Linked DNA regions of Homo sapiens: region 1 is linked to region 2. The links come from fine-mapping of genetic effects on gene expression. A gene starts in region 2. The other region holds a variant in brackets. All regions are shown on one strand. Distances are between the middles of the regions. Region 1 overlaps ZHX2 (zinc fingers and homeoboxes 2). Region 2 holds the start of ZHX2 (zinc fingers and homeoboxes 2).

Region 1 (16,384 bases), 190 kb after region 2:
TTGAATATCTTTTGTATTTCTATGGTATTGGTTGTAATATCTCCTATTTTGTTTCTAATTGAGTTTATTTGGATCTTCTCTCTTCTGTTTTTTTTTTTTTTGGTTAATCTCACAAGTGGTCTATCAATTTTGTTTATCTTTTCAAAGAACCAGCTTTTTGTTTCATTTATCTTTTGAGTTGTTTTTTTCTTTTAATTTCATTTGGTTCTGCTCTAATCTTTGTTATTTCTTTTCTTCTGCTGGGTTTGGGTTTGGTTTGTTCTTGTTTCTCTAGTTTCTTGAGGTGTGAGTTTAGGCTGTTTATTTGTGCTCTTAGACTTTTTGATTGTAGACACTTAATGCTATGAACTTTCCTCTTGGCACTGCTTTTGCTGTATCCCAGAGGTTTTGATCAGTTGCATCACTATTATTGTTCAGTTCAAATAATTTTTTAATTTCCATCTTGATTTCATTGTTGACCCAAGGATCATTCAAGAGCGTATCATTTAACTTCCACGTATTTGTATAATTTTGACTGTTCCTTTCGGAGTTAATTTCCAATGTTATTCCACTGTAGTCTGAGAGAGTACTTGATATAATTTCAATTTTCTTAAATTTATTAAGACTTGTTTTGTGGCCTATCATATGGTCTGTCTTGGAGAATGTTCCATGTGCTGATGAAAATAATGTATATTCTGCAGTTGTTGAGTAGAACATTCGGAAAATATCTGTTAAGCCCATTTGTTCTACGGTGTAGTTTGCGTCTGTTGTTTCTTTGTTGGCTTTCCATCTTGATGACCTGTCTAGTGCTGTCAGTGTAGTGTTGAAGTCCCCACTATTATTGAGTTGCTGTCTATCTCATTTCTTAGGTCTAGTAGTAATTGTTTTATAAATTTGGGAGCTCTAGTACTATGTGCACATACATTTAGGATTGTAATATTTTTGTATTGAACTACTTCTTTTATCATTATATAATGTCCCTCTTTGTCTTTTTTAACTGTTGTTGCTTTAAAGTCTGTTTTGTCTGCTATAAGAATAGCTAGTCCTGCCCACTTTTGGTTTCCATTTGCATGGAATATCTTTTTCCACTCCTTTACCTTAAGTTTATGTGAATCCTTATGTGTTAGGTGAGTCTCTTGAAGACAGCAGATACTTGGTTGGTAGATTTTTATCCATTCTGCAATTCAGTATATTTTAAACGGAGCCTTTAGGCCATTTACATTCAGTGTTAGCATTGAGATGTGAGGTACTGTTCTATTCACATTCTAGTTGTTGCATGAATACCTTGGTTTTTTTTTCACTGTGTTACTGTTTCATAGGTCCAATGAGATTTATGCTTTAAGAAGGTTCTATTTTAGTGTATTTTGGGGTTTTGTTTTAAGGTTTAGGACTCCTTTTAGCATTTCTTGTAGCACTGCTTTGGTAGTGGTGAATTCTCTCAGTATTTGTTTGTCTGAAAAAGACTTTATATCTCCTTCATTTATCAAACTTAGTTTCACTGGATACAAAATTCTTGACTGGTAATTATTTTGTTTAAGGAGGCTAAAGATGGGATCCCAGTCACTTCTGGCTTGCAGGGTTTCTACTGAGAAATCTGCTGTGAATCTGATAGGTTTTCCTTTATAGGTTACCTGATGCTTTTGCCTCACAGGTCTTAAGATTCTTTCCTTCATCTTGACTTTAGATAACCTGATGACCATGTGCCTAGGTGATGATCTTTTTGTGATCAATTTCCTGGGTGTTCTTTGAGCTTTTTGTATTTGGATATCTAGATCTCTAGCAAGACCAGGGAAGTTTTCCTTGATTATTCCCTCAAATAAATTTTCTAGACTTTAAGATTTCTCTTCTTCCTCAGAAGCACCATTATTCTCATGTTTGGTCATTTCACGTAATCCCAAATTTCTTGGAGGCTTTGTTCATTTTTTTTAATTAGTTTTTGTCTCTGTCAAGTTGGGTTAATTCAAAAGCCTTGTCTTCAAGCTCTAAAGCTATTTCTTCTACTTGTTTGATCCTGTTGTTAAAACTTTCCAGTGTATTTTGCATTTCTCTAAATGTGTCTTTCATTTCCAGAAGTTGTGACTGTCTTTTCTTTATGATATCTGTTTCTCTAGAGACTTCATCCATATCCTGTATTGTTGTTTCAATGTCTTTAAATTGGTTTTCACCTTTTCCTGGTGCCTCCTTGAGTAGCTGAATAATGAACCTTCTGAATTCTTTTTCTGGCAATTCAGATTTCATCTTGGTTTGAGTCCGTTGCTAGAGAGCCAGTGTGATCTTATGGGAGTGTTTTAGAACCTTGTTTTATCATATTACCAGAATTACTTTTCTGTTTCCTTCTCATTTAGGTAGACTGTTTCAGTGGAAACATCTGGAACTCAAGGGCTGCTGTTCAGGTTCTTTTGTCCCATGGGGTGATCCCTTGATGTGTTGCTCTCCCCCTTTCTCTAGGGATGGGGCTTCCTGAGAGCCAGACTGCAGTGGTAATTATTGCCCTTCTGGGTCTAGCCACCCAGTGGGGCTGCTGGGCTCCAGGCTGGTGCTGGGGAATGTCTGTAAAGAGTCCTGTGATATGATCCATCTTCAGGTCTCCCAGTCTTGGATACCAGCACCTGCTCCAGTGGAGGTGGCATGGGAGTGAAGTGGACTCTGGGAGTCCTTGGTTGTAGTTTTGTTTAGTGCAGTGGTTTTCTCAAATGCTGGTTACACCAGCAGTAAAATTGCCACATGGACAGACTCAGGACCTCTGGTTAGCCAGGATGTTGCAGGCAGTGGCATTAGCTGTTGTTTGCTCCTTTGAAGCAAGGTTGTTCTGTTATGAGTTGCTGTAATGGCTTGAGTTGGTTGGCCTCCAGCCGGGAGGTGGTGCTTTCAGGAAAGCGCCAGCTGCAGTAGTAGAAGGGGATATAATTCTGCCCTACATTGGCCAGGATGAGTACTCGGGTTTCTTAGGCAATGGACAGGACCACAGAACTTCCAAAAGATTATGTCTTTTTTCTTCAGCTACCAGGGCAGGTAGAGACAAACCATCAGGTGGGGGCAGGGTTAGGCGAGTCTGAGCTCAGACTCTCCTTGGGCAGGGCTTCATGTTAGTTTCTTTATTTAGGGCTGATGAGAAGGCGGTGCAGAAAGGTAGCTCGTGCAAGTCTTTGAGGTAAAAAGTGGTGGAGCTGGAATTCAAATCCACCCCTACACCCACACATGTAAGCACTTTGGGGAATCTGCCCAGTGAGTTTAAAATACAATTCCATTTGCTCTGGTTCTATTAAATTCCCCTGGCCAATATGCACTGATAGGCCAGGAGCAGGAAAGGCATTCCTACTGTCTCTGAGCCTCCCTGCAAGCAGCTTGAGGAATATATACCTGGCCTGTGGGTCTCAGCAAGTTCCCCAACCCTAGAGGCCCTTCAAACCACGCAGGGAAGGAGAGCTTTGGCGGGATGTGGCCAAAACTGACTCAAGCCTGGTGTACAGACAATTTGGGATGGCACGGAGTTTTTGTCATCCACTGGGAAGTTGCTTAATCTTCCTCCAGTCCAACACATTTCCCCTTTTTAAATTCTAGTTAAAAATCAGACTGTGCCCCCTACCCTCAATAAAAGAAATGAAAGTTTGAACTCAAATATTATGAGGCAGGCCAGGCACGGTGGCTCATGCCTGTAATCGCAGCACTTTGGGAGGCCAAGGCGGGTGGGTTACCTGAGGTCACAAGTTCAAGACCAGCCTGGCCAACATGGTGAAACCTCATCTCTACTAAAAATACAAAAATTAGCCAGGCATGGTAGTGAGCGCCTATAATCCCAGCTACTTGGGAGGCTGAGGCAGGAGAATCACTTGAACCTGGGAGGCAGAGGTTGCAGTGAGCTGAGATTGCACCAGTGAACTCCAGCCTGGGCAGCAAGAGCAAGACTCCATCTTGGAAAAAAAAAAAAAGAAAAAGAAATATTATGAAGCAGACCAGACACAGTGGCTCACGCATGTAATCTCAGCATTTTGGGAGGCAAAGCCAGGTGGATCACTTGAGGCCAAGAGTTCGAGACCAGCCTGGCGAACATAGTGAAATCCCACCTGTACTAAAAATACAAAAATTAGAGCCGGGTGTGGTGGCACACACCTGTAGTTCCAGCCATTCGGGAGGCTGAGGCATGAGAATTGCTTGAGCCCAGGAGGTGGGGATTGCAGTGAGCCAAGATCATGCCACTGCACTCCAGCCTGGGTGACAGAGCAAGACTCTGTCTCAAAAAAAAAAGAGAGAGAGAGAAATATTATGGAGCAGTACAGAAATAGACAGTGGAGTGATGTTGACCAGGGGATGGGGCAGGGGGATGTGGGGAATTTTCATACAATGGGTGTAAAGTTGCAGTTATACAGATGAGTAACTTCTGGAGGTATGTTGTACAACATAGTGCCTGTAGTTAATAGGAAGATATTTACTTCAAAATGTGTTCAGAGGGCAGATCTCATGTTATATCCTTACCTCCCCACTGCCCCCCCCAAAAATAGACACAAGCAAACTTTATGTTTGTTACTGGATTGTAGTGACAGTAACATGAGTGTATGCATATGCCCAAACTCACTAAATTACATCCATTATGTGCGGCTTTCTGCAAACGAGTTATACGTCAATAAAGCTAGGGCAAAGAGGGAAAAAATGCAACCAGAAAGAAAAGACGTTGCCTACAGAGAAACTACAGTTAAACTGACAGGTTTGTCCGTATCAAAAATAGAAGCCAGATGACAATGGAACAAAATGTTTAGCAGATAACAGGCACTCGGCAAATGAGCAATAAACCTTGCTACACCTCTCAAAAAAAATGTTATGGAGAGATAATCAATCACTCTCTCAGTGTTTGTTTTCCTTTCTCCTGGAGTGCAGTGTTACTCACTCCCAAGTCCCTAGGGCCCTAGAGAAAGTTCTCCTGGGAAAATTAAAGAGAGACAGAAACAGAAAGCTGTCACATGGGAAAACAATTCTAATGTTTTTGTTTCTCCAATGAGGAAAGTAACAGAGAAGCAGATTTTGCTAAAGAATTAGTACTTCTTAACATTCCAGGTTTTCCCCAAGACAGAAAGGGAGGGTGGGAGGCAGTGGGTTCCTGTCCTGGGACGTGTTCACCGAGAGCCTGGACATCACGTGGTAGAAATGTCCCAGAGGCCATAAGGAAATGCCTGTCCGATGGCCTTGCAGCATCCTCCAGGGCTCTGAGAGGTACTCTAGGATGAGGCACTGGCCCTTTGCTGGGTGACTGTCTCTGACCAGGTAATAGGACTCTGAGAGAAGCCCAGGGGAGTTAGCAAGAGCCACACAGCCCAAAGCACTGCAATGCTCTATAGAACAGCAATCCTGAAATGTGGACTTTGTCACCACCCTTGGGTCACAGCCACTCCTCTGACAGCACTATGCTCACTTTCCATTTTCCATTCATTGACAAATGCCTGTTGAGTATGCTGCATGGGCCAGACTCCACAGGGAGCGGATGGGGGGGTCAGCCTGCTTGCTTTGCACCCTGTCTGTAACCCTGCCAGCAGCCCGTGGGCTCTGTGCAATGGAAGTGAGACTCTGGGAGGTTAAGTAACCAACCTCAGCACGTAGCCAGGAAGTGGCAGATCCTGGATCCCAGCTTTCTCCAACTCCACAGCTCTTTCCACCCCATCCTGCAGTCCTGTGCTGACCCAACGTTCTTTAGCCGGGTTGGGAGAAAGAACATCGGTAGCTGTCTTCCCGCCTTGGGCCTTGTCTCCTAGGATCTGGAAGTGTTCAGGGGGACATCCAATCAGTGGCAGCCTCCCTCCCAAAGGTGGTGGAAGTCCCCATTTGCTGGGGAAAACCCTGTTTCTTGGAAAGCACCGGCAGAGGCTGGCCGTGGGCTACTGTGCCAACCCAGGGAGTGCATGTGGCTCTGCCTGGGATCAGCAATAAGGCTCGTGGTCCTCACTGGGTGCCCCAGCCCCCTACCTTTGAAGCCACCATGCTCTCTTCAATTGCTACCTAGCTCTGTGCATGGAGAGGCTGTGCATGACCTGGACCCAAAATAGGTACAGGGAGGAGCAATTAAGAATCAGGAGGCTCTGAAGTTGGACTGGCCAAGGTGGAGTCGGGCTTCACCACTCACTGGTTACCTAATGTTAAGCACAACATTTAATCTCTCTAAGCCTCCATTTCTTCGCTATGAAGTGGGTCTGCCAATCACCTGCCAGTCACTGTAAGGAGTAGATGAGATGAGCCGTATTACCACTTAGCATGGGGCCTGGTGTGAGAAACTAGCTACTCTCACTGTTGGAGGGAGAGTCATGATCATTCTTGTTTTTGACCATGCCACTGAGCAGGTCCTGGCCTAAGAGAAAGCACTTTTCCTCCTGAGCTTCCTTTTTTTTTTTTTTTTCCTGGTGAAATGAGTGATCTTGACAACATCACCTATAAGGATCCCTGCAGTGTTTACAACTTGGTGACTCTGGCTGGATGACTTTTAGGTAGTCCAGATTCTAAGGTCACCCCTGGAATCTGGTTTTATCTGCAGACTTTTCTTTTATAAATTGGTTTCTTAACTCCAATATTCAATCTTACTCCCAGGAGCATCTAGGGAATGTGGGTGCGTTTAACATCCAGATGTTAGGCATGAATGGCATTATCGATGATCAGCTGATGCCTCTGGCTGAGAAGTCCACTCTCCTTGCTGTTGGCCCCTGTACAAAAAAAAAAAAAAAAAAAAATTCCTTCTCAGGGCTTTCTCAGCCAAACAGCCTTACCAGGAGGGAGGCAAAGAAAAGGCCAGTGGCTCCGAGAACCTACAGATCTGAAAAACTTCTAGCCTGTCATGGAATACTGGCTGTGTCCTCTAGAGACCTGAGCCTTGCTTGGATCCCTTTCCCAGGATCTCTAGATCTTGGGAGGAGACAAAAGTAATGATGGAGACCTGCCCCCATTTCCTCTACCTACCACAAAGTATTGCAAACTGGATGGCTCAAAACAATAGAAGTTTATTGTTTCACAGTTCTGCAGGCCAGAAGACAAAAATCAGGGAGTCTGTGATGGTTGCTTCCTTCTGAAGGCTGTGCAGGAGTCTGTTCTGTGCCCATCTCCCAGCTTCTGGTGTCTGCCGACAGTCTTTTGCATTCCTTAGCTTGTGGATGCATCAGCCCAATATCTGCCTCAATCATCGCATGGTCTCTTCCCTGTGTGTGAGTCTTCACATCTTCCCTCTATGCACATCTGTCTCTGTGTCCAAATTTCCCCCTTCTGTAAGGACACTAGTCATGTTGGATTAGAGTCCACCCTGATGGCCTCATTCTCACTTGATTTAACTGTGTTACCTCTCTAAAGGCATTTCTAATAGGGTAACATTCTGAAGTACTGAGAATCAGGACTTCAATATATACTTTTGGGGGGACACCATTCCACCTATAATAAGGTCCTTGGACTATTTTCATTACTTCCAAGGGTATAAGAATTAAACATTTCTTCCTACTGATTCTTAATAATTCTGTTTATTAAGTGCACGGACTCTAGAGATTACCTGGGTTTGAATCTTGGCTCTGCCACTTACTAGCTGTGTGATCTTGGGAAACTTATTAGGCCCCTATATGTTCAGTTTCCTCAACTGTAAAATAAGAATAATAATAATATTTACACCTCTTAGAATTCATATAAACATTAAATAAAAACACATTTACAATGCCTCATCTTATCACTCTTCTATATCCTACCACGTTTGGAAAAGGCTCCATCTAATAAAAACAGCAGAAGTATCTACAATACTTACCATGTGCCAGGCACTAGTCCAAATACTGTTGTGTACATCAACGCATGGCATCATCGCAGCAACTTTCTAAGGTGGGTGCTAGTGTCATCCCTGTTATACAGAAGCAAAAACTAAGCCCTAGAGTGATCAAGTCCTATAGGTACAGCCCTGCAGCCACTAAGGGGAGAAGTTAGGACCCAAATCCAGATTTGTCTGACTCCAGGGCCTTTTAGGAGCCACTGGGACTGGTTGACTTTCTAGGAATAATAAAAGGGTCTTGTAAGGATGAAAAGAATCACAGGCCACCACCTTCACTTGCCCAGAAAGTCACTCTGTTTTCAAAGGCCTGATTCTGGAGGCTTTTCCTATTATGGCGGACTGTGCTCAGAAAACACACTCGTTTCTTTACAACAGGCCCCGTACATGAAGGGCATGTGTCTCTCTTCCAAGCCCCAGGATGACTTTGGAAGGCCCCCACCCCAACCCAGGAGAGCCAGGAAGAAGCAAACCATGATGCCTTCCCCCCAGGGAACAATGGTCATTTGCCTGACATCTTGACTCTGTGGTTTTGTGTCTTCTAGGGAAGTCTGTTAGAACTGCTGTGCTGATCAACGGGACGCTCCGTCTTTGAAGAAAGAAGAGATGGTCTCTCCCCAGCCATGGGCCACCCTTGCCAGTGACTCCAAGTGGAACTACTTAGCTCGCGTGTGCCTGGAGGGTGCGGGAAGTCCAGCGACTCTCAGACGCACCTCCCAGAGGACCGGTGGGAATTGTTCATAGTGCCAAAGTCCTACTACTGCGTTTTCA[A/G]TGGGTCCTTGTACATAGTTTGCTCCTCTGCCCTAGCCCTCACCTCTTGCTATACTGGAACCGATTTGTACAATGTGGGAATTTTGTTACCTTTTTAATCAAGGGCAACTTCCTTTTCCAGCACTACCATTGTAAGGTTTTTTTCAGGAGGGAGGGCTAACCACCTTGCTTTTCTCTTTTCTCTTTTTCTTTTTTTTATTTTTGTTTTATTAATTTGGGGAAAGGGGTGTTAGCATTAGTGCCATGATATCTACTGGATTTTAAGTAGGGAGACTTTATTTTTAAAGGTAGGTTGAAATTTGGGAGATTTCTCGGCAGGAAGGGCTGAAATCCAGGCCCCTGTCTCAACTTGGAGAGAGGTGACAGACGGCAGATCTTCCAAATCAAATTCCTTTCCAGTTCTTCCCCTGGCTGCCTTTTTGGGGGTCCCTGCCTTAGCCCCACACAAGGCTTTCTGAACTGCCAAGAGGGGATCTGGCTTCTCAACTGCTCGGCCTCTTGGGCCAGGCTGTGCCCAGCCAGCCCTGGGAGAACTGGGTAGCAGGTGGCTGACTTCTTTAAGCACCTTTCTAAATACCAGCAGAAGAGGCTCCCGCCTCTGTTAGCATGATCAGTACTATTGTGACATTAAAACAACAACAATAAGATCTTCCTATCTGGAGGGTACAGAGGTGAATGGCTTTGGTTTTCATTTCTCTTCTTCACTGCCTTTTCTCGGTGTGGTATTTGACAAGATTTTAGCTCAAAGCCTCACCATGAATTGATTTTTTTTGTTTGTGTGTGTGTTTGTTTTGGGACAATTTTAGATACCTGAGTGCACTTTTTCAGTTAGTCCTAACTTTTAAAAGAAGGAAAACCAAGAGACATATCTGGTGTACGTGTTGCAGTATGAACTCTGGTTGCAATCCCTCCCCGTCCCACACTGCCCCCCATTTGAGTACACCGCACAAGTCAAACGCTAGGAAGTTTGAATAAAACCAATTTTTCTAACTTGTTGCTCATTTGTTGTAACTCAATAAAGCAAAGACTAAACATTTTTATAACCTTTTCCTCTACTTCGCCTTCTTTATTGTCGTCTGGCTCCCGAGGGCTTGGTGTAAGGGTTCTGACTTGGATACCTCCCGTTTCAAATTCATTTTCCATCCTGGAGGGATCTGACATCGCAAACTGGACTTTAAAAATGGGACGTAGGCCCAGCGCAGTGGCTCACGCTGTAATCCCAGCACTTTGGGAGGCCAAGGCGGGTGGATCACCTGAGGTCAGGAGTTCAAGACCAGCCTGGCCAACATAGTGAAACCCCATTTCTACTAAAAATACAAAGATTAGCTGAGTGTGGTGGTGTGCACCTGTAGTCCCAGCTACTCAGGAGGCTGGAGAATCGCTTGAACCTAGGAGGCGGAGGTTGCGGTGAGCCAAGATGGCGCCACTGCACTCCAGCCTGGGCAGCGAGAGTGAAACTTTGTCCCCTCCCTCCCCCCACCGAAAAAAAACTGGATGTAAGTGTTGTAGGAATCTTCAGCAGATCTCATCGACACAGAGAAGGAAGGTATAGGCCCTTCCTTCTCCCGGGTCTCACAAATAGATTCATAAAATAGTCAAGAGAAGAGCTTCAGAGTGGGAATGAGAAGCCCCTCTGTGCACAGGCTCGCCCTTGGATGACCTGAGCTAAGTCGCTCCCCCTCCCTGGGCTGCTGGCGAGTGGTAGCTGGGGCACTGCCATTTCTCTGAGAAGGTGGCTTTTAAGTATCTCTGCCCTGGTGAGGTTTAAAGAGTCCCTCACTCTTCACACCTGACACTCGTCTAGACCAGTGGTTCTCAAACATGAGTGGGCACCAGCATCACCTGGAAGGTTGGTTAGACTGTCTGATCGGCATGTCTGGGGTGGGAACCGAGAATGTGCATTGCTAACAAGTTCCTCACCTTGGGAACCTCTGGTCTAGATGGTTCATTTTTACGGGAACTTACAGACTTTTGGCCAGTTTATCTAAACTTAGCATGTGTTTATTCTACAGATAACGGGAAAGACCCACTTCCCAAAATACAGGAAACACTGAAAAATTCAAGATTCAAAAGGGCCTGGCCTTCTCTGGGGGATTCCCTCAGTCCCCCATCCTGTGGGCTCCCATGACACCCTCTCTGCACATAGCCCTCACCACACAGCTCTCGGATTCATTTGGTCAGCTTGTCGATTCCCCCAAGCTGAGAGCAGGGGCCATAGATTTTCCATAACTTTACACCTCTCCAAAATTCCGCTAATTCTCTTTACCACTCAGCAAAGTTGAATGTAGACAGCGATTCAAAAATAAAAATAGGCCAGGTACAGTGGCTCACACCTGTAATCCCAGCAATTTGGGAGGCCGAGGCGGGCGGATCACTTGAGGCCAGGAGTTCGAGACCAGGCTAACCAACATGGTGAAACCCTGTCTCTACTAAAAATACAAAAATTAGTTGGGTGTGGTGGTATGTGCCTATAATCCCAGCTACTGGGGCTGAGGCACAAGAATCACTTGAACCCAGGAGGTGGAGGTTGCAGTGACCCAAGATCACTCCACTGCACTTCAGCCTGGGCAACAGAGCAAGACTCCATCTCAAAAATAAATAAATAAAAGTAAAAATCATAGCTATCTTTTTTATTGAGCACTTATTATGGGTTGGGCTTTGCGCTGAGTGCCTTACATACATTTTCTTATTTTATCTTTACAACCCTGTGAGATAGGTGCCCCCATTTTGCAAATGAGGAAACTGAGGCTTAGGTTTTGTAACAAGCCCAAGAACATGCAGATACTAAGCGGTTGTCATGGGAGCCTACTAATTTTGCCTATTATGTGTCCCTTACCTGCTGCTTCTGGTAAAAGCAGCCTCTTTTCTATGGGAACTGCCCTCCCCATTCCATGAGGCTGTGCTGTGACTATTGACAGACCTGCTCAAGCAACATGATCCAAGCCTAGCCAATCATAGTTCCCGTCCCCTGGCCCTAGTGATGGCATGTGGGTCAAGCAGGGCCAACCAAGCCTCTTCTTGAGAGATGGCTGTAAAGAGAAAAAAAGCTCATTCTTTCTGCTTAGGTAGCTAAATTAAGAAGATGTGGGCCAGGCCAGGTGCAGTGGCTCATGCCTGTAATCCCAACACTTTGGGAGGCTGAGACGGGTGGATCACAAGGTCAGGAGATCAAGACCATCCTGGCTAACATGGTGAAACCCCGTCTCTACTAAAAAACACAAATACAAAATTAGCTGGGCGGGGTGGCGGGCACCTTAGTCCCAGCTACTCAGGAGGCTGAGGCAGGAGAATGGTGTGAACACGGGAGGTGGAGCTTGCAGTGAGCCAAGATCGCGCCACTGCACTCCAACCTGGGCAACAGAGTGAGACTCCATCTCAAAAAAAAAGAAAGATGTGGGCCTGGGGCTGACTGCAGCTATTTTCTCTGCCATGGGGAGGATGTCTCTCTACAAAACATAAAAACTCAGTGAGAAAAGCAAATATTTGCTAGTATTACAGTTGTTGGAATATGGCATAGTAGATAAGTTGCTTGAACAAGGAAACACCAAAATGCAGTGTTTGAAACAAGATAAAAGTTTATTTCTGTCTCAGGCAACAGTCCAGGGTGGGCCATCAGGCAGTGCTCCACAGAGCCATTCAGGGACCCAGGGTGCCAAGCAGCCCTGCTGTCCTCAGCAGGCGCCTTCCATCTCTAGATCAGAACTGACTGCTTCAATTCCTCATCCACGTGGCCAAAAGTCCACTTCTACATTCCAGCCCTTGAGAAACAGGAGAGCAAGAACTTCAGTTTTAAGGTCATGAAACAGAAACTGGTCACTTCAGTTCCTATCCTATTGGCCAAAACCTAGACATGGTGACACCTCAATGGAAAGAAAGTTGGGGATGTAGGCTCTGGATAGGTGGCCAAGAACCAACAGAGAAGGGGCTCTGTATCTGAAAGGAAGAAGGGGAGAGTGGATATCAAGGATAGAGCAATCTCAGGTCAAGTTTACCTCCACCCTCCCCAGTTACATGAGCCCAGAATGAACTATTTATGTTTTCAGCTGGTTTACTAGGGTTTTTGGAACTTAAAACCAAAAATCATGATCAATATAGTCTTGAAGCCTCAGTCTCCCTGACTGGTGCTCTCAGGGGCTGCAGGGGCTGAATCACAGAGGAGAGGGTCCTGGAGTAGATAGAATGGAAGGACTGGCAGGTGAGTGCAAGATCACATCTAAAGAGGGCTTATTTGGAGTGTCAGACCCACTAGATGAGAAATGGGAGACAAAGAAAGAGGTCTTGAGCAAAGGGCCCCAAGTCCACATTGAGTCAAAAGGATGACAACAGGTGAGTTTCAGCCTTCTGCCATGAGCGAAGTGGGCCCAGGTATGTCTTTATTCCTCTTGAGTTCCAGTGACATCAAGAAGCAGAAGGTAAGGCAACTAAGTGCACAGGCTCGAGTCACGCTGCCTGAGGTCAAATCTCAGCTCTGCCACTTACTAGCTGTATGACCTTGGGCAAGTCACTTATTCGCTCTGTGTCTCAGTTCACTCACCTGTAAAATGAGATAATGATTGTGTCTATTCATATCGTGGCAGGTACCATGAGTCAGTATAGGGAAAGCATTTAGAATAGTTCCTCGTATCTATTAAATTCTCAGGGTTGCCATTGTTATTCCTGGGTGCATAATGCATGGATGGATTGACCCAAATTAAAATTATAGGGATTGGACAGACTCCCTCCCCCTTTTTATGAATATCAGCATCTAGCACATTTGTGTTGTTGGAGAGTTCTTGTCCTTGACTAGAAGCCTTGCAATCCTGCAGCAGCCATTGACTGTGAGCTCCAGTTGCCTTGGAGATACCTTCCATCAACGTCTATCCTCAGACCTCCCTCACCACTTCCTCATTCTTTCTCAGTCCCCTGCACTCCTCCAGTCTGTGGCATAGGCAGGATGCAAGGATGTCTTCTCCCTAATGAACTCTTCTCAGTCCCTCTCAAAGCTCACACTCCAGATGCCACACTCCACCTGGTCCATTCTAAGAGCACCTGATCTCTCTGTTATGATCTCTGCTCAAGTGTCACCTGCCCTCCGTGACCCCCTGTCTGCAGAGGTAGGACTAGGGTGAGTCAAGGAACGCACCTAAGGGTGCAAAGTTTAAGGCAGAAAGGTCATGCAGGTGACAAACCCTGCACTTGCAGAAGCCTGAAAGTGGGTGCCTGCCAAGATTTCTCATCCTAGGTGCCTCATGTGCCTCACTCTAGCCCTGACCCTGCCTACCCTTCATGCTTTTCTCTAACCATGCTTCATTATCTTCCGTCTTGCTTTTCACAACATATCGTCATGTATCTGTTTGTTTTTTGCCTTCTTCATCCCACTATATTGCAAGCTCCATGAGAGTAAGGACTGTATCTATCTTGTTTCCTCACTGTATCCCCTGTGCCTAGCACTGCATCTGGCACAAAGTAGATGCTCCATAAATATTTGTTAATGGATGGATGGGTGAATGGATGGATAATAGATGGGTAGATGATGGATAGATTATGAATAGACGGATGATGGATGGATGGATGAAGACTGCCAGCTCTGCAGTCAAACAGCCTGAGTTTGAATCACAGCTCTACTGCTGACCAGTTAGGTGATCTTGTGGGAGTTACTTAGCTTTTGTTGGAGCCCTGGTTCCTCATCTGAGACCTGGAGATGATTATACTCACGTAATAGGTTTGGTGTGAGGTTTAACTGAGTGCATGGGAGCAAAATACTCAACACACAATAAGAGCTCTACAAATGTCCATTCCCCTCCCACCGCTCTATGCAGGGAGTGACATCAACCCAAGCAGTGTGATACCTGTGCCTTTCCATCCCTGGATAGGAAGTTTGTGTGAGAAGGGCAGCCAGGAGGAAGTCGGATCCAGGTCTAGGAAATGATATTCCAGACATGTGCTTCTGGCATTGGAGACTTTGCCATATGTAGCCAACGCTGTCTTTAGCACCCTCTACCCCCAAACTCTTCCCTAACCCACAAACATTCCAAAATTCCAACCTGCACTTTTCTTTAAAAAAAGTTAAAGTTGCTGTGGCTAACTCATCTCCCAGTTCCTGCCTGCACTGCCTTCCCTGCCTGTGCCCCCAGCACCTGAACCTTCCCCAGACCTCATCACCCACATACTGTCTTGTCCTCCCTCCCATTAATGAACATTTCCAACACTCTCTCCCTTGACAGGTGGCTGCCTTCCCCTCCTGCCATTTACCACCCTTGTGCTTAAGCTTGCCACTCCAAGGCAATTTAAATAAATCTTTCGAGCAAGATGGTATGAGATGCTATCAAATGCTTGAAGGACCCAAAGAGAAAGCCTTGATAATTGATGGGGATGAAAATACAATGGGAAGATGGGTGTGCTCTTTTAAACACCCAGCAAAATATGTCAAGATATCTTCCTCCACTGGAAATGATTAAAGAGTGGCAGAAACTAGGAAGGAGGTTCTTAGGGGGAATAGAGGGGCAGGATTCTTGGTGAGGTGGAAGAGAGTGGTGGGGTGGAGCGACCATCTGCTGCTGCTTCTGTCTGCCCTATACCTCTTGAACTCCTTCTCTTCCTTGAGGATGTACTCATATCTCCCTCCACTCATCTCATTCTTGGGGCTTCCCATCATGGTGACCCACTCTCCGATCTACAGCAGTGACCCACGGCACTCTAGTACCCTATTCAGGGACAGGTACAGTACCACGCATAAGACCCAAACAGCACCAAGTCAGATACTGGGAGGAAGAGCTTCCTTTCCCATTTAGATGGTAAGTGCAATCATGTTAGCTTGGAACCACCAGTGGCCAAAGCCCCTGCCAGGGAGAGGAAGCCAGTCCTTAAGTAGAGAGAATGGGGCCACAAACTCAAGAGGCAAGGGAGCAATAAAGGATGGAGCAAGGGATGATGATGGTGGCGGTGATGACGGCAGTGGTGATGACAATGTTGATAATCATGTGAATCCCTGGAGCCTGCCATTCCTAAGGCCAACTCCTTGTCTTTCCAGTTTCATAAAAACCAACATATTTTCCTTTTTAGCTTAAGCTTCAAATCTTTTGAGTTGGGTTTCTGTCACCAGAAACTCAAAGAGTTCTGGTGGGTTAATGAAATTATGAGATAAAAATGAAAGGAAAGACAGCAATTGTAAATAGCCATGTTGGCTAGTGGCTTCAGTATTGGATGGTGCGGTTCTTAGTCCTTGCCATTCAAATGTGCTCCTGAATCAGCAGCATAGGTATCACCGGGAGCTTGTTAGAAATGCAGTATCTTTGGCCCCTATGCCAGACCTGTTGAATCAGATTCTGTAATTTGACAGGATCCCCAGATGATTCGTATGTTCAGTAAAGTTGAAGAAACCCAGCTCTGAAGACACTAAATGGCTCCTCCCCAACCTCCTCCAGCACACTAAGGGATGGGTGGCAAGTCTAATAATACATCACTGGCCTGTCTGCAGAGGGTAGACCCTAGGGCCTGGGAACAGGGAGGCAGAGGAAGAACAGGGCAGAAAGAGCATGGTCCACCAGCTGATGACACACTTGTCCTTCTAGGCCACCTGGTGCACAGCCACTTCCAACCAACAGTGCTTGGAAAGGATAGCTCTCACTGACCTGTCACAATGCAACCCAGAGAGAACCAGGAAAGATGTCAGCTCCCTCCTTCTAATCGCTGAAAGCTCCTGTCTCCAACATCTCACAGCTGGACATACGTATAAAGCACAGCAGAAAAATTATCATTGCCCTGGGCAGGGGAAGGGGGTTGATCGATAAAAATGAATAAAAAACACTTCATGAGCACATCCCATGACATGCTGCAAGTTGAGTATCCTGTAGAGTGTAGGAGGCATCCTGATCTTGACTTTGA
Region 2 (13,708 bases):
CTTTTAAAGGACTCATATGATTAGATCAGGCCTATCCAAATAATCTTCATAATCTCCATATTTCAAGGGCAAGTGATTTGGCACTTTAACAACATCTGCAAAATCTTTTCACAGCAATGCCTACATCCATGGTTGATTGAATAACCAGGGACTGGGAATCTTGGGGGCCATCTTTGAATTCTGCCTGCTATATATCCCATGTGAGGCAAGAAACAAGGACACAGAGATGACTATGGCGAAATACTCATCCACAAGGGACTTATAGTAAAATGGATACAACAAATACAGAGAAGTAACTAGATTATTGGGCAATAATTGCTAACTCAAGGTTAAGTGCAAGGTTCTGTAGGACTTCAGAGGTGGCAGGATTAACTCTTTGGGAGAGTACAGGAAGGCTTCCTAAAGAAAGTGACATTTGATCTGTGTCTTGAAGGACCGAGGAAGAGGGAAGCCATTCCAGGTACAGGGTGCACCATTTACAAAGATGGAAAAGATCATGGAAAATGTAGGGAGTGACAAGGAACCCAGTGATGCTAAATTGTAGAAGACAAGATTAGAAGAGGCAGAAGACTAGGCTGGAAATGCTGATTTGGACAAGTTTATGCAAGATCACTTCTGCTACCCCAAAGAAGTAGAAAGCAATAAAAGATTGTAAGCAAGGAGGTGACCAAGCAAGATATGTGTTTTGGTGACAGCATGGATAGTAGACATAGAAATTGGAGCCAGGGAAATCAGTTAGTTGGTGTTTACAGAATTTCAAGTTCCTTGAACTGTCTTAAGTAAGGCTGCTATAGAACAAATAACCAGAGACTGGGTGGCTTAAACAAGAGAAATTTATTTCTCACAGTTTTGGAGGCTTGCAAGTCTAAGATCAGGGTGCCAGCATGATCAGGTTTGGGTGACAGCTCTCTTCCTGGCCATCTTCTTGCTGTGTCCTCACTTAGAGGGAAGCAGGGAGAGAGAAAGTGAGCTCTCCGGTGTATCCCTTTATAAGGGCACCAATCCCGTTAAAATGGGAAAAGTTCCCTTGTCCCCCTCGCAGGGCATGCAATGAGGGTGTGGTTCGCTTCTTCAGTGCCCCGCTACTCAAACTTCTACAGGAGTGTACAGACAGGCAGGCCATGAGGCTTCGATCCCACGGCAGTGCCTAGGGGTGAATGTTTGTAGCTCCTGAAGCCCCAGTGGGTGTGTGTTACAGGGTGCTCTTTTAGTTTAGCTGTCTATAGGCGGCTTGTGTTAACCAGCTCAGTTAGACCCCCTTCCTTATCACAAGGACAGAGGGATTTCTTTATTCCAGGGTTTCTTGCCTTGGTGTACCAGAAGAATCTGATCACACGTGGGCTTGGAGAATGAGTGCAAGGTTTTATTGAGTGTAAGTAGCTCTCAGCAGATGGGGGAGCCAGAAGGGAGATGGTTTTCCCCTGGAGTCAGGCTGCTTAGCGGCCCAAATCTTCTCCAACTGCCCCTCTCATCTGGCTGCCTGTGTCTACCTGCTGGAGTCTGGGGTTTTTATAGGACCAGGATGAGGGTGTGGCGGGCCAGGGTGGTCTTGGAAAATGCAACGTTTAGACACAAAAGCAGGAGTCCTCACCTAGCCTAGTCCTCACAAAAGCCTGTCCTCACCTAGGTCTGTAGGGGTGGAGCCCTGGCCAGGGACCCACATTTCTCTACCCAGCACTCCAGTATCACTATCAGGAAGGCCCCACCTTCATGATCTAATCACCTCCCAAAGGCCCCGCCCACTTCCTAATATGATCACATTGAGGATTAGGATTTCAACATATGAATTGGGGGGCAAGGGAGCACAAACATTCAGCCCTTCAACCCGTGGCACTGATTCTTATGCTCTCAGAGGGAGCAACATTGTAATAGATTCATACATGAAGAACTGTGACAGGCAGCCAGGTGTCAGCAGTGTGAAACATGTACCGCTTAAGTAGCATGTGTGGCCATGAGATGGTTTTAAATGATGTCCAGGTACAGCACAAAATAGCTCTGACTCAGAGAAAGTTACAACTTTCAATTCTCTTCCCATCCTTTTAATTAGCTCAAGAAAAAATTCTCAGTTTGGTGCTACCCTGTCTCTAATAACCTTCTAACACCTTTCCCCTCCATCTCTACCTTCTGCAAATAAGAGTATCTAGCTAGCTCAATAGTGCTGTTTTTTTTTTCCCATGGTTATTTTCACTGTTACCTTTCATTGGTTCATTTGAAAATTCAATATTGGATTTTCTTGTTTCTATTGTGACAAAAGGCTTCTTTAGTATTAGTATGAAATAAGTGCATTTAAGTTTTAAAAATGTGAATCAATGTAAATAAAATGTTTTCTTTTTTTTTTTTTTTTTTTTTTTTTTTGAGACAGAGTCTAGCTTTGTCACCAGGCTGGAAGTGGTACAATCTTGGCTCACTGTAACCTCTGCCTCCCCGGTTCAAGCGATTCTCCTGCCTCAGCCTCCTGAGTAGCTGGGATTACAGGCACTCACCACCACACCTGGCTAATTTTTTTTTGTTTTTAGTAGAGATGGGGTTTCACCATGTTGGCCAGGCTGGTCTCAAACTCCTGACCTCAAATGATCCACCTGCCTCAGCCTCCCAAAGTGCTGGGATTGCAGGTGTGAGCCATGACCCTGGCCAAATAAAATGTTAAATTAAAAATACTATAGGTAGTTCCTTTGCTACTGGGACAAAATTGGTGAAGGGGGTTTGCACATGAGTTAATTTGCAAGTCACAAGTATAGTGGGAAGCAGGCAGGATTTGTAATCAATCAAATGTGGGCTCAAGACCTGCTTCTAACTTATCAGCTGTATGGCCCATGGATAATTCATAAGCTTCTATAAACTTGTTTTCTCCCACAAATTAAGGAGACAATATACTATTCAGAAGGTTGTTTAAAAGATTAAATTACATAAAGTATAAGAAGCACCTCCCAGGCAGCCATGTACATGGTGGGCACTTGCACTCCCTATCACAGTGTATATCCTTAAATAATGGAAACCTCTGTTTTTGGCAACACCAAACAGGAACTTAACTCCAGTACCTACTGAGTATCTATGCTTGATAAATGAGTTCTTATTTGCTTAGGATCTGGGACCTGTGGCGCGGGATCCTTCATGAGCAACAACTAAAATCAAGAAAAGCTTTGATTTGGAGAGTGGGCCAGCTCAGGCATCATGGACCAAGAGGCCTCTCTACCCCTTGTCCTGGCCTCCAATATTTCACAATGCTACCTATACCCTGCAGAGTTCAGGGGGAAGTAGATCTGAAATATTCAGATATATGTGCAAATAAAGACACGGATAATAACTCCCATTTTATTTATCTATCACTGTGTAATAAACCACCCCAAAAGTTAATAATGTTAAACAACTACAGTCTTATGATCATCTCATTATTCTGTGGGTTGACTAGGTGGAGCTGGATGGTTTTCCTCTACATAATGTCAGGTGAGACTAGAGTCAAGTGGGAGATCGATTAGGCTGGAGCATCCAAGATGGCTAAAGTCTGTGTATTAATCAGGATCTCAGGTGGAGCTATTGTCCCTATCACCTTTGTTTTCACTCCATGTGGCCTCTCCATGAAACTTCGGCTTCTCACAGCATGGCAGCAGGACCCTAAAAGGAAGGAAACAGAAACTGCCAGTCTCTTAAGACTTGGATTTAGATGTCTCAGAATATCACTTTCATTGCATCCAAAGCAATCACAGGACCAGTCCAGATTCCAAGGGAGGGGAAGTAAACTCCACCTCTTAATGGTGATGTATTTTTCAAAAAAGGAAGGAAAGGATTGAAAAAAGCCATCTTAGAAGACTACCACACCTCCTAAAGCTTTCACTTTTTGCAAAAGGTTTTTATTCTTGAAATGTGTGTATATTTCAACTAAGCAAATATGTACCTAGGAATTTATCCTAAGGAAGTAATCGCAGATGATTCAAAAGATCTGACACAAGGTTGTTCATTGGAATAAAATTGAAACTACCCAATGCCCAACAACAGGGGACCAATTAAGTCCAAAGGTGGTTGAGGACAGTGTTTTAAAAGTCTATTCTCTGGGAAGCAGGTAAAATTAAGCTTAAATTCCAACTCCATTACTTAGCATCTGTGTGATGTCGAGCAAGGTACAGTACTTAAGCTCTTTAAGTCTCAGTTTCTATATCGGTAAAATAAAGACAAAATATAGATTTTTGTGATGATTCAATGAGATGATACATATAAAAGGCTCAGCACATGGTAAATGATCAATAATTGTGAACTGCTATTATTATTTATGATAGTCCTTAGTGCTATCATATTAGTGCAAATCTTTCCCATTCTCTCCATTTCCAGGCACACAATACTTCCATGGATCTTTACAGTTAACTTTGTGTTTAGTTCTGACCAATGAGTTGTAAGTGAAAGTGGCATACGTTACTTCCTGGCTGAACATTTACTTGTCCAACATTATTGATTCTGAAGCTCCTAAATACTGTCAGATAACGGTCTGTCTACTCCATGAGTATACTTCAAGCAAACAGGGATCATACCACATAAAGCAAAAGCCACCTTTGTCTTATTCCTCATTGTTTTCTCTTTATATGGTGCAAGTTCAGTCCATGCTAAACTCTGAACAATTTTAAAACACTGCAACACATCAGAAGCCCCTCATCCTTGCTAGTGTCCATGAGATCCAAGTGCTCTGAAGATATGAGAACCCAGCAGACTGTTTAGAGGGTTACCTGGCTTCCCTCCCACCTGGCCCATTCCACCCTACATACAATCTGTCACCCAGCCAGAAGCAGGTGGCAGTGAGGTGGCAGCAAGGGAAACTTGGCTTATAGAAAACCCTCCTAAGTGATTGATCATCCAGAGGAGGTGCAGCCTCAAAATAGGAATAGCTTCGTTAAGGTTTGGGTAATTTCCATGGAAACAGACAGAACTAGACTTATTTTAAAGGGGGGGGGGGCAGGGCGTGGAATAGCCTGCAAGGGGCATAATAAGGTAAGCGATGTAAAAATGTTGAAGTTGGTGTGGCCGGCGGGACGGGACAAGGCGGGGGAATGGGGGGAGGGTCCCATATTTTTTTCTTTTCTTTTTACAATTTTGGTTCACCCTGGGTGAGGCAGAGGTTGGGAGGAGATCAGGCAGCGGTAAATTCTGATGTTGATGGCAAGTAAATTAGGTTCTTAGCCGGTACCAAATGAGGCTGAGAAAGATGTGGCCCAAGCTGGATTACAGTCATCAAGAAGTTAACAGAATCCTGTAAGAGCCCCTCCAGGTCGCCTTTCAGGTCCGCGAGCATCACGCAAGAGACTCCTTCCCAGGATAGAATCTTGTTTTATGGGCGGTTAAAATGCAAACAAACAGACCCTACATCAGCAATAACCGAACAAACAGGTGCAGGCCATTAAGAAAGTTTTGCATATGAGCTGTTTTAATTTTTGTTGCAAAGGATTTCTGGGGAGTCAAGGGGTATGTCAGAAATTAGAGCCCTAGGGCAGAACTTACAAAAACCTTTTAGCTACTTCCTTCTCCCCGGCCTCGGAAATGAAAAAGCCAAAAGGTCACCCAGCGCATCCGCCACCCAGTCAGCCCCAAGGCCAGCCGTCCTCACCCCAGTCCGGGTCCTCGCCATTGGCCTCTCCGCTGCACACGGCCACCTGTTGATGCCCTCGCGCCCACAGCCGAGTTGCAAACGGCCGCTAGAGTTCGTTCTAATTCCCCAGAGCAGAGCTGCCCGGGAAGCCCCGACGCGACGCGCCTGCTAATCTGCAGGGCGGGCGGGGACTCCGCAGAGCCTCCCAGCCCCAGGCTCCCTTTGTTTTCTCGCTGCGCTCGAAGCTTCTAAACTAGCCCCCAGACCGCATCCCCTCGTCCCCGCCCGGGAGCTGCCCAAGAGTCCACAGGCCAGCCCAGGGGGAAACAAGGTACATCTGGGCAGGAATGCGCGGCGCAGACAGGTTGCCGCCTGAGATCCCGAAGTGTACCCAGATCCCGAATTCCTTAGAGCTCTTTAGCCGAGCACTGTGGCAGGAGCGCGGCGCCCGGAATACAAGTTCATGGTTCCGAGCCGGCGGGCGAAGGGCAGCGCGATCCCCCGCCACCTTTGCTCTAAGGCGCCTAGGGGAACCTGGGGGCTGCCGCGGTGAGAGCTCCGCTCCCACTGGGAACATTGGAGTCCCAGTTGCGAAAGCGACCCGCCTAGCTTCCGAGGGACTTCTCTGCGAGCACCGCAGGCGTGTGCATTTCTTCGAATCTGAGAATTCCAGCGAACTCGGGCTCTACCAGAGTTTAAGTCGGCCCCTGGGGCGTCTGTTTGTTTATTGGCTCTTAAGGGAAAAAAGTTTGAAGATCTTTAACCAGCCTCAGACCTGGCGCGGGCGGAAATCCCGGAATCTCCCCAAGCAAAAGTGATATAACTTCAAGTCGTTATATAAGTGGGGGGCTCCTTCTTCCCCTCCCTACGCCGAGCCTTCTCATTATCATTCCGGGAGTAAAATGTGTCTCGCTCAACATAGTTTTAAAATCGTTATTATTATTTTCCTGAGCCTGAAGCCGGGCCAAGGCGCAGGCAGCGCCCAGGGTGCGTGGTGGCCCCACCCGCGCACAGTCCCACGCAAAGGGTCCCGGGGCCCGGGTACCGCCAGAGCCGGGCCTGCAAGCGCGCCCTTCGGTCCCACGGTCCGCCACTCCACGTGGTCAAGATCAACAGTTTGTTGAGCTCATCAGTGACACCTTGAACTTTTCATAAAGAAAATGGGTATTGCACGGAGACGGTTTGGCCGCGGCCGCCGCGCGGGGTCGTGCTTAATATTCAATGATCTCGCTCGCGCCTCCCCCTCCTCTTCTCGCAGAAATTCCACCGAGTCCGTTACTGGGCTCAGACTTTTAAGTTAATTTACTGCCCCCCTACCTTGGCCAGTAACCAGCGCCTTTAGGGCTAGCCTCCCCCCCAGCTCCTGCCTGAAAAATGACATTTCGCCGGTGTCTCCGGAGGGGGCTGAATTTCACTTTGTAACTTTCTGCGGAACCCGAGCCCGGGTGGCAGCTCGGGTGGTGGTATCGTATGCAAATACGCATGCTGACGTTACAGATCATGTGGGTTTTGGCGTAGATTCCCCACTGATCGAGGCATTTTTTTTCCCTTTTTTTTTCCTTTTTTTTTTTCTTTTAAAAATTTTGGCCATCGTTCTCCGTACGGGGGCTTTTTCTGTCTGTCTGTCTGGCTGGCAGGCTGGCTTTCCCCCTCTTTCCCACGGAGCCCGAGCCGGGCGCCCGGTGGGGAGTGGGGAGTGGGTGGGGGGAGCCAGCAGAGTTCCATTTTGGAACGCCCGTGCCGCGTCTCCGCGTTCCCAGCCCGGGTCCCCGCGTTCACAGCCCCAGCGCAGGTAAGAAACTTCGCCTCGGCGCGGAGCCCCCCAGCCGGCGCCGCCGGCCCCAAACCCCGCACGCCGGGCGCCGGCCACTCCAGCCCAACTTTCCCACCGCCGCCGTCGCCGCCGCGGCTCCCGAAAATGTGTTGTTAATGGGACTTGGCCGGGTTTGTGATTGGAAGGGGGGTACGGAAGGGGGGGGGTGTGCAGGCTCTTTTTGCGGGTGGGAGGAAATGAGCGGATACAGAGAGGGAAGAAGATTTTTTTTTTAAGAGTTTTGATTACAAGTTTGGATAAATGGGAGCCAGAGCGAGGAGGAGGAGGAGGAGGAGGAAAAACATGTCTACGTTTCCCTATGTCGACATAAGCCACAAAAAAATATGGCGTCCGCTTTCGACAGGGCGTTACGTAGACCCGACTGTTTTTATTTATTTATTTCGTGGCCGTCTCCCTCCCTTCTTGGCCAAACTGCGGCGCTTTGTGCAAACGGGGCAGGTCCCGCGGGGACTCCACCGGGACGTGGCCCCGTCTCCGCGCGTTTTGGCAGGCGGGGGGCTGCGTGTGTCTGCTCCCCTCCCTCCCCCTCTCCCCTCGCTCCCCTCTCCCGGTGACGATTCGCCGTAATGTGGTGGCAGGAAGCATGACGCCGTGGGCCGAGGCTGCCTCTGCTCTCGTCGCTCCCGGCGGCTGCAGGCAGCGGGCGCGCAGCGCGGGCGGCAGCCGAGCTACCTGGCGGGGGCAGGGCCGGAGCGCGGCGCTGTCCTCACCCCCGCTCAGGTGCAGGGGGAGTCCGCGCGGGGCGGGGGGCCGAGGGCGGCCGCGGGACCCCCGGCCCTGCTGTCCGCTGCCAGCTGGCCGGAGCCTCTGCCAGCCCGAGCCCACGTTCGCCCCCCTGAACGGCAGCTGGCGCTTTTCGTCTGCCCCACAAGAGGTTAATCTTTGTTGGTGTTGCAGCTTCTTTGTGGCTTCCCCAGGACTTGTATCCTCGGCTTTGCAAACTTGCCCTTTTCCCAGCCGCTTTGCAGGAGGCTGCGGAGACGAAGATGAGCGGAAAGTTGGAAACCAGCAGGCATCACAGGACGGTCCCTTTGGCCTCGTAGCTGTGCTGAGCCTGGGAGGCGGAGGAGGAGGTGGAGGCGGCGGCGGAGGAGGGTTTGTCAGGCTGGGGAGAAAACTTGATGAGGAAGCCAAATTGTGATTTGTTCAGGTTTCCACCTGATTGATAGTCTTCAAAGCCAGTAGGTCTCTACCTTCAACTGTTTCGCGGTGGCCTTTTGTTTGTCTGGGGCGTGGAGAAGGAGAGAAGTCGATGAATAAGGACTTTCCCTCGACCCCTCCCCTTTTAAAGAGTGGTTGCTCAGCTTGGCCCCCTGGGACACTGCCTTTTAGGCCCTGGAGTTCTTCCCCAACCTGCTCTCTGATCACTTTCTCTCTGTTAAGTTACCAGATCTCCAGGTCTCAGGCAGGCCCCGATGAGCAGAATGGAGTTAGAGGAGAGGATTCCTTCCCCCAGCACTTCTTGAATTGCCCAGACCTCCCACAATTACCCTCTTAAAACCACACACACACACACTTACTCACTCTCTCCTTTATATATGGCAGAAATTAATGCCTGTAGAAGTGAAGGGGGTGAGGTTCTGAGAGCTCTTCAAGATTTGAGTCAAAAGGTGATTTTCTGTTTATGAGGGCAGCGAGTTTAAGCAGTTCACTCCCAGGGCAGTAATGTCAAAAAGCGTTTGGATGACGACCAAGTGGAATAAATATCTTGTAAAATGGCATGTTTAATAGTAAAAATAGATTAATGGAGCTGTCAAGTGGTTGAATGGGACTACCATAAAGGTTTAAGTTTAAAGGGAAAGTTATGTAAAGCTGTATACACAGCTTCTTTTAAGGCCAGAAGGGAAAAAATCTACAAGTAAGGCTGAAATGTGTCACTGACAATAATTGGACTGGTGATGTGTGGAAATATCATCGCTGTTTAAATGCTCTGCTCCGCGATTGTTCTCTTGCGCACTTGTACCTTTCCTTCTAGCCAGGTTTGCTGTCAGCTAAAGGATGCACCTGAAGATTGTGCTTCAGGGGAAAATGCAAGAAACCAAGATTCTGGGGCACATCAGCTATCTCAACTAATGTCCATTTGAAGGGGGAAAACACCACTGTTTGTTGGCACTGAAGAAAGGGTATTCCTGTGATGTAAGTGCAGTGTATCTTGACATGCTGAAAGGTGGCCCCACCCGGCGTTTCTCATCCACATCAGGACCATGTGATTTGGTGGGATGCTGTACACTTATCAAAAATAATCATGGCAATGTTTGATAACAGTTTCTAACACTGTTATGGTGTGTGAGGCACAATGCTGTATATTTTACGTGCTTTATCATTTAATTCTCACCACAATCCTGTGAGCTAAGTACTACTATTATCCTCCGTTTATGGTTGAGGAAACAGAGGCTCCAAGAGGTGAAGAAACTTGCCTGAGCGACACAGCAAAAAGCAAATCCAGGCCTAACTTCATAGCCTTAACCAGTCCATTGTAGCAGCATTCAGATACACGACGTCACAGTTAGAATAAAAAAGTAAAGGGTCAGGTCCAGCAGAAAAGAGGGAACAGTAGCCACTGTCCTGAGGTCCGAACTTCAGAATTTACCTGGATTTTATTCCTTTATTCATTTATTTAGCAACTGTGTGTTGATTTATTTATTCATTCAGCAACTATAATGTTCATTATACTAATAAGAACCCATAGCCATTAAGCATTTTTGTATGCCAGGCACTATCCCAAGTGCTTATGACTAGACTATTTTGTCTTCATGACAACTCTGATGTAAGTACTCTCATTCTCTCCTTTTTCTAGATGAGGAGGCACAAGCCCAGGTAAGTTAGCTAACTTGCCCAAGTCCAAACAGCTAGTAAGCGGAGTGGCAGCCCCCAGAACACACACACTCTGCTGTTGCAATGCAGAGCGCATAACCAGATGTATGGAAATGCTGGGGAGACAGAGCCCCCCTGGCAGAAACGCAAAGCACTGCATGCTCCAGACATTATGGAGATGCTGGTGGGATACACACCCCCTGCCCTCTAGGAGTTTGAGCCGACTGCGGGGAAGCACTCATTAAACCAAATCAAGCAGGCTTAGATAAGTGCTATGATTGAGAAAACTAACCACTGTGGAAGCACAAGGAAAGGCATGATTCTTCTGCTCTGAGGGGATCACAGAGGATCTCCTAGAGGTGGGAGCAGCTGAACTGCCCCATGAATGAAGAGGAACAATGTCCAGAGGTGTAGCCAATATCACTGCATTCGGCTGCTAGCAGCAGACTCTTGACTACCAGTGACTTAACCAGATAGGGACTTTTTTGTGTCAGACAACAACGGGGTGAGGGGTAAAGGGAGATGATGCCTCAGCTGTACCATTGGGAACCCAGACTACTTCTTTCTACACTGCCATGCTTAGAGTGGAGGCCTTTGGCCTTAGGTTTATCATCTCATGGTAGGAAAGTGGCTGCTACGTCTCTAGGCCTCAGGTTTGCATTCCAAGAAAGAGAAAAAAGGATGAATGAGTCTCAAAGAGCTTTTACCCAGTACAGCTTCACTGCTATATCTGGGAAGGGGCACCCCTCTCAGGGACTTCTGTCTTTAGCTCATTGACCAGAGCTGTGCCACATGGTGACTACTGCCAGGGAAGAGCAGTCAAGTATTTTTAGTTGGACCCATTGCTGTCATGAGCAAATTGGGGTTCAACTTGTAAGGCAGACGGGGTGAAAGGAGGAATGGTTGTTGAGTTGGCAGGGAGGGCATGTGCCGCCTGAGAAAGAAGGGCCCTGGGAGCAGTGGACAGGTACCCTGGGGAGGTGGAGAGGGGGATGCAGGGAAGGCTGTGCAAAGAGATGATGCCAGGCTTGGGGGTGCACATGGAGGAGGCTGGCTTTTAATCTCTAGGTACTAGGGAGCTATGGCAGGTTTCTGAAGGTCACGTGTTTGGGGAAGGGAAGACTAAGACTGACAGCAGAGTACCTTGTGCAGACAAACGAGCTTAGTTCTTATTTGCAATAAAACGAGTTCTGCAAAGTTTCAGGCCAGGGAACAGTTTTGCCTCAGGGCAAAGAGAAGACCATGTACAATAAAGAAGTGAGGGATGATTTGCTTTTAGGTCCTGTCAATAAGAATCCAAACTTAACCTGATGTGAGTCAGCTGTTACAGGGAGGCAATCAGCTCTCCTTTCTGGATAATTCAGTTAGTGGGACTGGAAAAGCTGGAAGGGGGTGCCATTTACTCTCCAAACACTACACTTGCCTTTTTCCTGACCTTTGGGTCTCCTGGGCCCTAGCTGCAGCTCCACCACTCATCAGCAGGATACCTTTGGCCATGACCTTCACCATTGCTTTAAATCAAGGAGATGATATCAGAGCATGTCAGAGGCCTTCCCAGCACCAGATTCCCCAGGCTAGATTCCTCCAGCAAGGGCCAGCCTCTCTGATTCTCTTTGCTCAGGGTATTACCTTTATGACTTTGAGCTGTTACTTACCTCAATTTTCTTATCTCTGAAATGGAGATCACTTTAGTAGCTGCTGTATGAGTTGTTAGGAAACTTAAGAAAGTTGTAAAAAGGCTTAGCACACACCTCACATGTGAACTGTGCTCAACAAATCACCGTCATCACTGCAACCACCTCAAGAAAGTGACTTTATTGTAAATTTGAGGTGCCAAGTAATTAGCATGTGTGGATTTCATCATCAATCCCAGGACCCTGACTGTCCCATCTCATTGCCATTCCCCTTCTGCCTCCCCCCACCCCCAGTACACACATGCACTCATTTTGTGGCAAGTCCGTACCACACATCAGGTACCACACGTACGGTACCAGCACATGAGGTACCGTAATGTGCTGTGTCATAGCCACATCCAGACAGCACATCTCAGGAAGGATGCTTGGCTGTGCACATGCCCCTTTGGTAGACAATAAGGTAGACATTATTTTCTGTATTGACAAGATTATTTCATTTTGAACTGAAAAAACTCGTGATTCCCCTCCCCCACCCTTCTCTAATGCCCCCACCCTACATTGAGCAGGTTGTGATTTTAAGAACATCCACCCACAGTCTGCTTCCTGTTCTTACACTTGTAATCATGCAGTTAAGAGGGGTTGATTGGCAGTGGTGTGTGTGTGTGTGTGTGTGTGTGTAAAACAGACCCCATGCAGAAAAACAGTCCTGACAACAGTATATCAATTTCCACCCAAACTTTAAAATGGAATAGAGACACCAGGGCCAGAACCTGTCTTCTTGCTGATACCTCTCTTTCCCCCCTGGTAGACAATATTTACCTGTTAAAAGTCACAGTTCACACCCTTTCTTCCTCTTTCTCTCCCCCTTACTCCCTAACATTAGAAACACTTAGTGGAGATTAATCTTGTTACACATTGTTTCACTGCAATGGTATTTAACACATAACAGAATCTGCAGTGAATGAAATTCTTGTGCTATTGATCCATGAGGGGTCAATATGAAGGAATGTGAGCCAGGCATTCACTGTGGTGTAAGAGATTTGTGATATATTTTAGGGGTGCACATGTCTAGTTTGGGATGGAATAGCGGGAAGCCCACGCTGAGTTTATCTTTCAGAGAGAAATCAGCAAAATCCTGGGGACCATTTCCTGTCAAGTTCAGGGTCAGGGAATAGATTCATGGATCTCTGGGGCTTCGGGGAGTAGCCAAATTGAGTTAGCTCTTTCTTTGGGAGGAAATCTTCCCTGTTGGGGGCCCAGGGGCCACTTGTGAGAGACAGAGAAGGAGCCTGCTATTGAGGCAGAGAGGAAGAGGGTTATGAATGAGAGTTCCTGGGCTACAGCCCCTCCTTGTCCTGGTTGGATGCCTGCAACTGCAGCTGCTGGGCTCAAAAACATCTGCAGAAAACTGAGGAAGGACCACAAGTCTAAGTTAAGGAGGAAGTGGCAGGCACTCATGCATGCCTGCATATGCTGTGCAGAGGTGACCGTTTAAACCAGTGTTGCAGAAACACTCAAGAAAAACACTCCTCAGCAGGCCTGACATTTATGCCCCCACAGCCATCTCATCCCCCACAGCCTGGTTCACTCTGGCTGGTGAAACTGAGCAAATACAAAGCTCCCTACACAACCAGATGCACAAAGCTCCCCACATACCCAGACACAGCACAAGCACATGGTGTTCACCATGTTAAGAACAGCAATAGCCACAGAAAAAGTAAGCACCTACTATGTGCTAGGCACTCTGCTAAACACTTTCCCTTCACAATGTCATTTAATCTGACCCTGAGGAGTAAATTGAGAGTGGCAGTGTAATTCCACTTAAAAGGTAGGAAAAATGGGCTAGCTTGATGGCTC

The links.
Region 1: its variant is fine-mapped to the expression of ZHX2 in monocytes (Fairfax 2014, PIP 0.95).

The regions. Positions count from the first base shown.
Region 1 is chr8:122,964,947-122,981,330 of GRCh38, forward strand. It overlaps ZHX2 (zinc fingers and homeoboxes 2), which reads left to right. Exons shown (of 4, transcript NM_014943.5): 4 at 8,296-9,564. Among named protein-coding and RNA genes, the nearest start is that of DERL1, 69 kb to the right of the region's middle. RefSeq lists silencers at 5,158-5,257, 6,178-6,227 and an enhancer at 5,498-5,907. The variant A/G (reference allele first, on the strand shown) is at 8,522.
Region 2 is chr8:122,774,586-122,788,293 of GRCh38, forward strand. It overlaps ZHX2 (zinc fingers and homeoboxes 2), which reads left to right and starts at 7,070. Exons shown (of 4, transcript NM_014943.5): 1 at 7,070-7,361. It overlaps ZHX2-AS1 (ZHX2 antisense RNA 2), which reads right to left and starts at 7,019. Exons shown (of 2, transcript XR_007061082.1): 1 at 5,588-7,019; 2 at 3,299-3,612. RefSeq lists enhancers at 5,513-6,014, 6,015-6,514, 7,682-7,731, 8,387-8,921, 12,291-12,390 and 2 more and silencers at 7,782-7,851, 8,072-8,201, 8,982-9,061.